2 linked regions of the Homo sapiens genome follow. The gene in region 2 interacts genetically with the main gene of each other region. Each region holds a gene or a part of one and is shown on either strand. Other genes may lie near its edges.

Region 1 (4,216 bases), on a different chromosome or scaffold from region 2:
AGGTCATTTGGAGCAGGAACTGTGCAAGACGGAGTGGCGTCATTACAGTGGCTGGGAAGGTACTGCAGGGACCCTGTATTCCCACACAGCAGCAGACCCAACGTAGGCAAAGAGGAAATAAGCATGGCAAAAGTTGGAAACAGTCAAAGCTAAAACCTCTTGCTTGTTTTGAAACAGACCCCAATTTTAAGTACTTATTTTTGCCAAGTGGTCACGATGGCTGTTCTCTCATATGTCTACCAAGAACTAGGTTAAGGGCATTGAAGCAAAGTTCCTTTTTTAGATAAAGTTTATCCAGCAATTTCAAACACCAGAAATCCAAGACCAGATCAACCAGATAATCAGCGTGATCATTTAGGCTCTTTACAATCTGTACAAAATCCAAATCTAAGAAACCGGCCCTAGCAAGACCCCTTTTATCCCAATCCACGGACAATCCTAAAATTGCCAAGAAAAACTTTACCACAAACAGATTTTGTTTTCAATGAAAAAACTCTTAATTTCATAATTTTCATACCACTTTTTTCTTTTTTATTTAAAATATTATAACCAATTGACATACTAGATAACATTGTTTACATTCCAGTGGTGCATGTTTAATGACTAGGGCATGAATGATGAAAAACCACAATAATGATCTCAGCATTCCCTAAAAAGTGCCCCATTTTGTTTTGTCTAGAGGAAAGGAGAGGGAACGGAACACAGGGAAGGAGAGGAATGGAGGAGGAATGACATCGCAGAGGGAGAAAAGCAAATGTCAGCTATCATACTCAGGTTTCCAGGTGTGACACCCTGCTGACCAGGATAAACTGTAATGAGAAAATAGATGTCACAGTCCAGGGAGACACGTAATTCAGTCTAACTTCATTATTCAGCTAAAAGATTAACAGCTTCTCAAAAATATACCAAATATTGGGCCTACAAAAGTAATTTATTTCTTCGTAAAATTTTTACTAAGATTTACTCCTTTTGTAAAATGTAAATGGACCGATATCACGAGCAGGTTTCTACTTACAAAAACAGTAATAATGTCAACGAGCACAATTTTGCAAGACATACAGTCAAAGATTTTACACGTGTCTCTTACTGATGTAAGGTATATACTTTACATACTTACTGGTATTGTGTCAACATTGGCTAGAAAGTATTTAACACACATTTATAATTCACTCAGTAAAGATCTAACAGGGCAACAGCTTACTTGGGAAAGCATAGAAAATTAGTGTGAGGTAGTTCAATAAAAACCTAGTTTAATTTGTAAGTCATTATGAGAATAGAACATTGTGCAAAATTAATCCACAGGTAATATTTCTCAAAAGTTTCAGTAACGAAGAGAATCTAAACTAGAAATGGCCAGAAAGTGTTACTGTTACTAGACTCTCCTTAAGAGCACTTAACGAAGAGCAGTCAGTTTGAAATTAGGACTTCTGTTTTCCTTACGAGTTTTCTAATCGTACCCCAAACTATACATTTCTGCTTCAATGCCCTTTACCTCTTCATCTTTCTTGCTATTAAGGAAAAATTAGTTTCCTTTGATTCCGTAAAAACCTAAGAGAGATCAGTAGAAACACAATGCACACAAAAATGCAACAGGATACGGAGAGGCAACATTTAAGAGGGCTGCTAATGACAGAATGGTGTTTGGTTTACCTACTGGTAAGAGAAGTTTACTGGTGTCATGGGGCTTCATGCATCCACTCTATAGCTAATGTGTAACTAATGAACAACACTCACAAACTACAACAGTATTTCTGAAAATATTCTATGTTCTAACCTCAAAATGTTGTGCAGGCGAATGCCTAGGCAACACTGAATAGTTAAGTCTTCATATGTTTAGCAGATACTGGCCAATAGTGTAAACCAAGTCTTATCTGTAACCAAGGAAAGAGCTTCACTTTCCTGCTGATGATTTCACTATCAGACACTGATGTCCTCTTCCCTCCATCTTTTAGACAACACAGCAGGATTAGCATAGAACAGAACAATGACAAGGCTGGCAGGATGCTTCTTTGCACACCATCAAGCTTCTTTGGATTGTTAAGGGGGTTGTGTGTAGGCTTCTGATTTAAGAGGCTGGTGTTTCTCTTAGAAGTCTGGCATGAACACACTGTGCCTTTACCAACTCGGAAGAGTGCACGTCAGGAACAATTAGCAGCCAAAGGTGCATGACACTGAAAACTGTTCAGCAAACACTATGACAGAGTTGAGATGCTCTATCTGCGTATAGTATAACTAAGTGATCCCAACAACACAATGGTTTTACAAATGGCCAGTATATATTAGAGGGAAGAGAATAGTAACCAGGAAGACATTGGTACAGAATTAGCATCTCTTTCTGAATCTATGAAGATAATAAAAATCTTGGTCAAAATAACTTTCTGATAGTAAGACAGTGAGTATATTAAGTATATAAAATTGAAAAATCAAAATTATAGAATAAGAAAGGTGGTTTCATACAAGTACTACCTGATAGAAATGTTATTTGTAACTTCTCTTCAAAAAAAAAATGTTTAAGATGCTTAAAGGATTCCAAAATAAAAAGAACCAACATATATTTAGCTTAACAAATTTAAGACGAAAACTGTATTTGGATGTAGTAATTTAAAACCTAGGGCATGCAACATTTAACAAAGAGACCTTGTTTTTAGGATATAATTTGTTAAGTATTTTAGTTTACACTAAGTAATGAGAGTTTGTTTTCTTTGAATTGAACTGAACATGATGGTTGGCAAGTGGCAGCTGGCATTTACAATAAATGATACAGACACACACCTGGTTTTCCTTACTTAACCAAAATCTGTATCAATAGAGATGGCTTATCAGCAATCAAACATAAAATATGAGAACCTTCTGAAAGCATGTCTGCTGTGAAAGTGCAACAGTGACATAATCTATGCTACAGAAAATACAGCTAATTGTGAAATTAATATAAACACACTCATTCTCAAATTTCTGCTGAAATTGTGAATCCAATATTTTCTGTCTACAATTCAAGAAGTGTCTTAGAACTCTAATTTGCCTAATCAAATTAATGCACCTTGTTGTATTAGAAAAGGGACTGATAAAAAGGCTGGGAAGCTGGAAATCATGACTCTAAGCCATCGAAAACAAACTTGCTACTTCAAAGTATATAAAAAAGCTAATGTATTTTAATCTTAAATATTGCACATTAACAGTGATGTAAAATATCTCACTCAAAAATAATTTTGCACTAAATATATGAATAAAATGCCAAGCAAATTTTCAGACATTGCATGTTGAGCCGCACCTGTTCTTGCTCCTGTTGGTCACAAATTCCAAGGGGCTTTCTGCCTAGAACCTTGTTGCTTATGTGAGTATGCATTTCCTAGTTCATTACATGAAATCCCTCTTGTTCCAGAGATAATTTAAAAGGTGCCTGGGTCTATTACAGACAACGTATTTCAGAAATAACGAGACTTCAAAGACATTTTACTTAGGAAAAGTTCAGTAATAGAGAAATAATTCTACAGATAGAAAATGTAAACAGTTAACATACACTTGTCAGGAGCAGCACCATTCTTAACACTACTCGACATCCACATTGCGTGTTATGTTGAAAATCAGGTATAAAAAAATAAAAGACTTAGACTAAATAACCACCATTTATGCCTGCTCTGCTCAATGTGAAGAAACAGTCCTTAGAAAATGATATCCTATATATGGCTGTGTGCTACTATTTTCAGATGAACGGTATATTGCTCATTTGATACATCACCTACACAAATCTAGGTAGGGTTTGGAACCTCCCAATAGCTCGTATAAATGATTATGCTACAAGTAGAATCAAATGAAACACCAGAACAACTGGTGCTCAACTGACAGACACTCCAAGTAATAGGAAACAGGAAAGGTCCAAGGACCCGAAGCTGCAGGAAAGGGAAAGACCAGACTCTAGAACATTGCTGGGACCTACAGCCTGAGTAGATTAACTCAGTGTATACAAAAACAGGCTCATAGCTAGTAGAAGTGAACCATCTGTTTATTTGCATTGAAATGTATTATTCATGAAGTATCCTCTTGCCTTTATGTGATCATAAACTTTGAGCATGCCACAAATTTGTAGAATACACCATATTCTTTTTACTTATTTTTGTTGGGTAGGGTGGGGACATAAGGTGGTGGTAGACGCCCAGCATCTTCAAAGACATGCTCTGAGTTATTCTGCCATTTAGATGACGGGGCTTTTGCCAAAATT
Region 2 (7,768 bases):
AAAAATGGCTGAAGATGACAACATGCCACCCCATCTTGCAGAAATGTAATTAATGAATTCACTGAACCCCTATTTATTCAGCACCTTATGGGGTCCCAGGCTCTGTTCTAGGCCCTAGAGACATAGCATTGAACAAAACAGATGGAAATCTCTGTCCTTGGGAGCTGACATTCTACTGGGGAGCAGCACCTCAGAAAAGAACTAGATGATGGCATACATGAGTGAGTGCTAGACAAAAAAACTAAACCATGGATGGGATATAATGAAAGTACAGGTGCTAGGGTGAACACTCTTTTTTTTTTGAGACAGAGTCTTGCTTTATTGCCCAGGCTGGACTGCAGTGGTGCAATCACAGCTCATTGCGGCCTTGACCTCCTGGGCTCAAGTGATTCTCCCACCTCATCCTTCTGAGTAGCTGGGACTATGAGCGTGGGCCACTGTACCTGGCTAATTTTTTTTTTTTTTTTTTTTTTTGAGATCAAGTCTCACTCTGTTGCCCAGGCTGGAGTGCAGTGGCATGATCTCAGTTCATTGCAACTTCCGCCTGCTGGTTTCAAGCAATTCTCGTGCATCGGCCTCCTCAGTAGCTGGGACTACAGGTGTGTGCCACCATGCCTGGCTAATTTTTAAAATATTTTTAATAGAGATGGGGTTTCTCCATGTTGGCCAGGCTGGTCTCGAACTCCTGACCTCAGGTGATCCACCCTCCTCAGCCTCCCAAAGCACTGGGATTACCAGCATGAGCCACTGCGTCTGGCTGTGCCTGGCTAATTTTTAAATATATATGTAGAGATTGGGTCTTGCCACGTTGCCCAGGCTGGGTGAACATTTTTGATCATGTGACCAGGAAAGGTCTCATTGAGTAAAGTCTGGAAGGAATTCTGGGGAGTGTGCCAGGTGACTCTGGGTGAAAAAACATCCCAGTCAGGGGGAATTTAACTTACAAACATCCATGGCTTCTCGGCAACCTATGCGCACACTCAGAGGTTCTCAGGATAGGTGCAGATCTAACCCCTATTCTTTGCTTTAGAATGCAACGCTGGGGGCCAGGCGCGGTGGCTCACTCTTGTAATCCTAGCACTTTGGGAGGCAGAGGTGGGTGGATCATCTGAGGTCAGGAGTTTGAGACCAGCCTGGTCAACACAGTGAAACCCCGTCTCTACTAAAAATACAAAAATTAGCCAGGCATGGTGGCGTGTGCCTGTAGTCCCAGCTACTCAGGAGGCTGAGGAGAGAGAATCGCTTGAATCCAGGAGGCAGACCCTGCAGTGAACCGAGATCACACCACTGCACTCCAGCCTGGGTGACAGAGCAAGACTCCGTCTCAAAAAAAAAAAAAAAAAAAAGAATGTAACCCCAGGGTTAAGATTTTTAAAAGGTCACATTTTGTAGCAATGTCAGCAAACAGCAATGTTGCCTTTGCAGATCCTTCTATTTCGGAGCCCATACATGTGGTTATCATGATGATTGAATTTGGATCTCAGACATTTTGGTAGTTTCCCGATAATCTCACAGGCCTCAGGGCCAGTGTGTCTCAGGTGTCTGGTGGGGGAGATTTCTCTGGATGGTCCAGAAGAAGATAATCTGCTTCTTACTCTCCTGCAAGCTCTCCCTGCAGCCCTGCAAAGTCTTCTGGTGGGGTCTGCAGAGAAATTCCTGCCTCCTGAGTCAGCAGGAAGTTCCCAGACCAGCCCTAGGTGGCTTTAGGGGAGGAGCGCTGGGCAGGGAGCCAGCTGCCAGTGCCGCATACCTGAAGCCAGGTGTGTCTTTGCAATGCCTGCGCACTTCCTGTTTGTCACCTGGACCAGGGCTAGCCTCGGTCGCAGAGTTTCCCAACCCCAAGTTCCTGTCTTGTGTCTCCCTTAGTGAGAGTGAAGTTGAGTCAATGGCAAGGTTCTGGTTAGTTTGAGGACACAGGGTGGCCATAGGTCAGCCAAAGGCCAACTAAGCCATCTCCTGCCTCTGAGTCCTTTGGGATCATTTATTCGGGCACGGAAGAGAAGAAACGGGCAGAATCAGGAATCAGACCAAGCATAGAGAGAGGAGAGAGGGGATTATTCATGTTCCAGTTGGATCATAAACATGTGTCCACGTGTGGGGAGGACGTGGAGGGTGGGAACCACCAGCACAGGCAACACAAACACAGATGTAGGCAGGACTCGCTTTTGACGTTGGACGACCATTGCTGGAGCACTTGCTGTGCACCAGGCTCTGTTCTAGGACCTAGAGATACAGTGACTAAGGAGATTAAAGCTCGGCACCACCCTGCCCTCCAGAGCTTGCAGTCGGCTGCGCAAGACAGACTGCAAACGAGCACAAGATGAATGGAGAAGACAGACCATTTCTAAGAGTTATCAATGAAAGTGATAAGCCAGGGAGATGTGATAGAGGAGGCTGGACAGGACAGCCTCTCCTATAAAGTGACATTGGAACTGAGACCTCAGTACAGAAGGAGGCAGTTAGGCAAAGATTTGGAGGAGTCGCCTGGGTGAGGGGTACAGTAAGGGTAAAGGCCTGGAGCTGAGATGGACTTGCTTTTTACATTTTACATCATCAAGGCGGCTGGTGTAGCCGGAATACGATGAGGAAGGAGTAGATAGGAGGGCAATGAGGTTGGAGAGATCAGGAGGAGAGACTAGGCAAAAACTAGTGGACTTTGAATTTTAATCTCTATGACCCAAGGGTTTTAAGTGAAGGAGGGGCCCGATCTGATTCGCCGTTTAAGAGGATCACTCAGGCAAAAATGGAAACAATGGCTTTCTGTGCTGCACAGGAAATACACTTAGAGAGGCACGCCCAGGTGAGCCCGAGCACACCGACACGCGTAACGCACAGCGACCCTCTCATTCGCGAGGCGACCTCTTCTACCCCAGATCCTCCCTGCGAGCCGGTGACCCCACCTGGAAAGAGAGGACTCCCCATCCCAATAATCCTGGTTCTGGATCTGCCCTGGGGCTCCACTCACCTGGGCAGGACCCGCGGGGCTCCCACGAGGCTGGGTCCAGGCGGAAGCTGAGGCTCCGCGGCTCCGGGCTGCTGTCACCCCCGCCCTCCACCTTGCCACCGCCCCAGCCTTCCCAGACCACACCTAGTGGGAACTCAGCCCAGTTACCTGACCACACCTCCTGCAGACCCCGCCCCCTGCGGGCCCCGCCTCAAACTAACTTCCCAGGCCCTTGCTCCGCCCCCTTAAAACCATTTTTTTTGCTACTAGCCACGCCTCCTTCTGCATCGCACCGCTTTCTCCATAGACCCCGCCCACTAGGGGAGCACCACGCATCCTTTCCTGCCAGTGGCCCCTCCCCTTGTATATAGCCACGACCACCGCCGAATGACTACGCCCACCCGCAGCCACCTCCTTCTCAGCCCCGCCCCTTAGGGCAATAGAAGAAATTTCATCCCAACGTTCCCGCCCCTTAGAACCCTGCCCCTCCCTTCCACCCAGGCGGCCCCAAGCACCCATGGCCCTTTGGGACCAGGGCGGGGTGGAGTGGGGTGCCTCTCTCCCCTCCCCGCCAAGGCTCCGGGTCAGGGCAGGGCAACTCCCTCGGGCTCTTACGCCAGGCTGGGGTAGCTGCGGCAGCTGTGACGTAAGGAGGGGTACGCTTCCTCCAGACCGCCCTCCCGGATTTTCCGGAAAGAAGCCCCATTTAGGTGGCGGGTTTTGTGGAGAGACGTCCGGGAAAACGCGACAGCTTCCTTCAGTGACAGCACGCTGGAGCGGGGCGGGACTTTGGTGGAGGTGGAAGGCAAATCATTCAGGTGGTTTCCCAGGTGGGAAGAAGGGTGGGGGGGACTTCCATCGTGATGCCTGGAGACGAACAAGAGAAAAGGTGACAGGGACCTAGTGCAAGAGAGAGGACTCTTTGGCCACGTTTATTGATGAGTTCCTCATATTAACATCAGTCTTGTCTTGTAGAGACAGGGTCTTGCTATATTGCCCAGGCCGGAGTGCAGTGGTGATCATAGCTCACTGTAGCCTCAACCTCCTGGGCTTAAGCTATCCTCCCGCTTCAGCCTTCCAAGCAGCTGAGACTAAAGGTGCACACCACCACACCCAGCTGATTTTATTTTATTTTTTGTAGATGTGGCGTCTTACTATGCTGCCCAGGCTCTGGAACTCCTGGGCTCATGCGAACTTCCTGCCTTGGCCTCCCAGAGCGCTGAGATTACAAGCAAGCATGAACCACTGTGCTTGGCCCCAGTAACCACAGTCTTAAAAGCAGTAGCAGCAGCTAACATTTATTGAGCACTTACTGTACACAAGGGCTGTTCTGTCAACTTGCCTTTATTTTATTTTATTTTATTTTTTGAGATGGAGTTTCACTCTCGTTGCCCAGACTGGAGTGCAGTGGCAGCAGTCTCAGCTCACTGCAACCTCCACCTCCCCGGTTCAAGCGATTCTCCGGCTGTAGACTCCCGAGTAGCTGGGATTACAGGCTAATTTTTGTATTTTTAGTAGAGATGGGGTCTCGGCCAGACTGGTCTCAAACTCCTGACCTCATGTGATCCACCTGCCTCGGCCTCCCAAAGTGCTGGGGTTACAGGCATGAGGCCTCTATTTTAATTTTCAAACAGACCACCCTGTAAGGGTGGTAGGTAGTATTTTCATCACTTCCATTTTCCAGATGGAGAAACTGAGGCACAGGGCAACTAAACCATTTGCCCAAGTTAACCTGGCTTGTAAGTGGTAGAGGCGAAATTCAAACCCGGAGCTCTGGAGCTTTATCCTGTCTGCCTCCTTTTCAATCTTCGCATGCCCACTTTCTCCACGATGCTGCTTTGCGGTGAAAGTTACTCACCCACCATTTTACAGATGAGGAAATTGAGGCCTAGAGGGCCAACGATGCTTGGGGATGAAAAGTTTTGATGCCTGTAGGTTGCAAAGCAGGGAATTTCCAGACTGGGCTCCCCCGACTGGCCCTGGCAAATATGGAAGAGACTCCAGGCTCAAGAGGGGAAGAAAGTTTCTTCCTTATCCCTCACCGGTCTGGTATTGGTACAGTCAGAGGGTAGGGGCATGTTCAGGGAAGGGGTCTAGCGCCTCCTCGTGGTTATAATAATTTAAAAAGAGGGCCCAGCACTTTGGGAGGCCGAGGTGGGCAGATCACCTGAGGTCAGGAGTTCCAGACCAGCCTGACCAACATGGTGAAACCCTGTCTCCACTAAATACAAAATTAGCTGGGTGTGGTGGAATGCACCTGTAATCCCAGCTACTGGGGAGGCTGAGGAAGGAGAATCACTTGAACCTGGGAGGCGGAGGTTGCTGTGAGCAGATTAGCTGTGTGTGGTGGCATGCACCTGTAATCCCGGCTACTAGGGAGGCTGAGGAAGGAGAATCACTTGAACCTGGGAGGCAGAGGTTGCTGTGGGCAGAGATTGCACCATTGCACTCTAGCCTGGGCAACCAGAGTGAAACTTTCTCCTAAGAATAATAATAACGATAATTTAAAAAGAAACTCCATGATGAGGGCCACGTATTAGGTGGACGGGGGAGGGCCTGCTTACACTCTACTGGGGTGGAAGCTAGGGATGGGGGCAGAGAGACCTAATCTCATGAAGATGATTTCAGCTAATGATAAGGTAATGGCCGGGAAGCCAGTAAATGTTTGTTGAATGAGTTAATGAAAGACACTATTGGGCCTGGCACAGTGGCTCGTGCCTGTAATCCCAGCACTTTGGGAGGCTGAGGCAGGTGGATCACTTGAGGCCAGGAGTTTGAGACCAGCCTGGGCCACATGGCGAAACCCTGTCTCTACTGAAAATACAAAAATTTAGCCACGCATGGTGACACCTATAATCCCAGCTACTCGGGAGGCTGAGGCAGGAGAATCACTTGAATCTGGGAGGCAGAGGTTGCAATGAGCCGAGATTGCGCCACTACACTCCAGCCTGGTCCATAGAGCAAGACAAAAAAAAAAAAAAAAAAAGACACTATTGTAGTCTATAAGGAGAGGGATGATGGTGGCTTGGATTTGGGTGGTGACCATGGACATGGTGATAAAGGGATGGATTTGGGATAAATGTCAGGTGCAGTCAATAGAGCTTTCAATTATTTATTCATTCAACAGGTATTTAAGGGGCATGCCTATGTGTCAGGTGCTGCATAAGAGAGGGGTCAGTAGTGAACCAAAGAAACATAAATTCTTGAACAGACAATAAAGAAACAATGATGAGCGGGTGCCATGGCCCACGTCTGTAATCCCAGTACTTTGGGAAGCCGAGGTGGGAGGATTGCTTGAGGCCAGGAGTTCAAGACCAGCCTGGGCAACATAGTAAAAGCCCCTCTCTGCAAAAAAATTTAAAATTAGCCAGGCACAGTGGCACAAGCCTGTAGTTCCAGCTACTTGGGAGGCTGAGGCGGGAGGATCACTTGAGCCCAGGAGTTTGAGGCTGCAGTGAGCTATGATCATGCCACTGAACTCCAGCCTGGATGACAGAAGAAAGAGCCTGGGCACAGTGACTCAAGCCTGTAATCCCAGCACTTTGGAAGACCAAGGCGGGCAGATCACTTGAGGTCAGGAGTTTGAGACCAGCCTGGCCAACATGCTGAAACCCTGTCTCTGTGAAAATACAAAAATTACCTGGGCATGGTGGCAGGTGCCAGTAATCCCAGCTGCCTGGGAGGCTGAGGTCAGGGAAAACCTGGGAGGCAGAGCTTGCAGTGAGCTGAGATCATGCCACTGCACTCCAGCCTGGGTGACAGAATGAGACCCTGTCAAAAAAAAAAAAAAAAAAAAAAAAAAAAAGCCGGGCGCGGTGGCTCACGCCTGTAATCCCAGCACTTTGGGAGGCTGAGGCAGGTGGATCACCTGAGGTCAGGAGTTCGAGACCAGCCTGACCAACATGGAGAAACCCTGTCTCTACTAAAAATACAAAATTAGCTGGGCGTGGTGATGCATGCCCGTAATCTCAGCTACTTGGGAAGCTGAGACAGGAGAATCGCTTGAACCCAGGAGGCAGAGGTTGTGGTGAGCTGATCACACCACTGCACTCTAGCCTGGGCAACGAGAGTGAAACTCCGTCTCAAAAGAAAAAAAAAGAAGAAAGAAGCCTGGCGCGGTGGCTCACGCCTGTAATCCCAGCACTTTGGGAGGCTGAGGCGGGCGGATCATGAGATCGGGAGATCGAGACCACGATGAAACCCTGTCTCTACTAAAAATACAAAAAATTAGCCAGACGCGGTGGCGGACGCCTGTAGTCCCAGCTACTCAGGAGGCTGAGGCAGGAGAATGGCGTGAACCCGGGAAGCGGAGCTTGCAGTGAACTGAGATTGCGCCACCGCACTCCAGCCTGGGTGACAGAGTGAGACTCCGTCTCAAAAAAAAAAAAAGAAGAAAGAAACAAAGAGAGAAAGAAAGGAAAGAAAGAAAGGAAGGAAGGAAGGAAGGAAGGAAGGAAGGAAGAAAGGAAGGGAGGGAAAGAGGGAGAGAAAGGAAGGAAGGAAAAAAATAACTTAAAAAATCAGATTTGTTGGACAAAGATCAGGGCTTAACCTAGGGAGGTGGGTAGAGCTAATGGAATGCGGAAAAGGCTGTGATTTGAAATGAGGGGATTTAGGAAGACCTCATGAGAAGGTAGCATTTGAGCAAAGACATGTAGGGGTGAGGGAGCTAGCCATGAAGTTGCTTAAGGTGGAGGACACAGCCCGTGCAAAGGCCCTGGGGCAGGGCCGTATGTTCCTGGCATGTTGGAGGAAGAGCGAAGAGGCCCGTGTGGCTGGAGCACAGTGAAGAGGGGGAGAGAGGGAGTGGGGAGGGCAGGGAGG

What was found. Genes that interact genetically often act in the same process or in processes that back each other up.
Region 1: of SH2D3A (region 2) and MAPK8, changing one enhances a phenotype caused by changing the other (phenotypic enhancement), as found in Homo sapiens cells (one study listed by BioGRID).

What each region holds. Positions count from the first base shown.
Region 1 is NC_000010.11:48,435,645-48,439,860, reverse strand, and holds the end of MAPK8 (mitogen-activated protein kinase 8), read right to left. Parts: 3' UTR 501-4,216; downstream 1-500. UniProt on the Homo sapiens protein: Serine/threonine-protein kinase involved in various processes such as cell proliferation, differentiation, migration, transformation and programmed cell death.
Region 2 is NC_000019.10:6,764,422-6,772,189, forward strand, and holds the start of SH2D3A (SH2 domain-containing protein 3A), read right to left. Parts: upstream 3,015-7,768; 5' UTR 2,966-3,014; intron 1-2,965.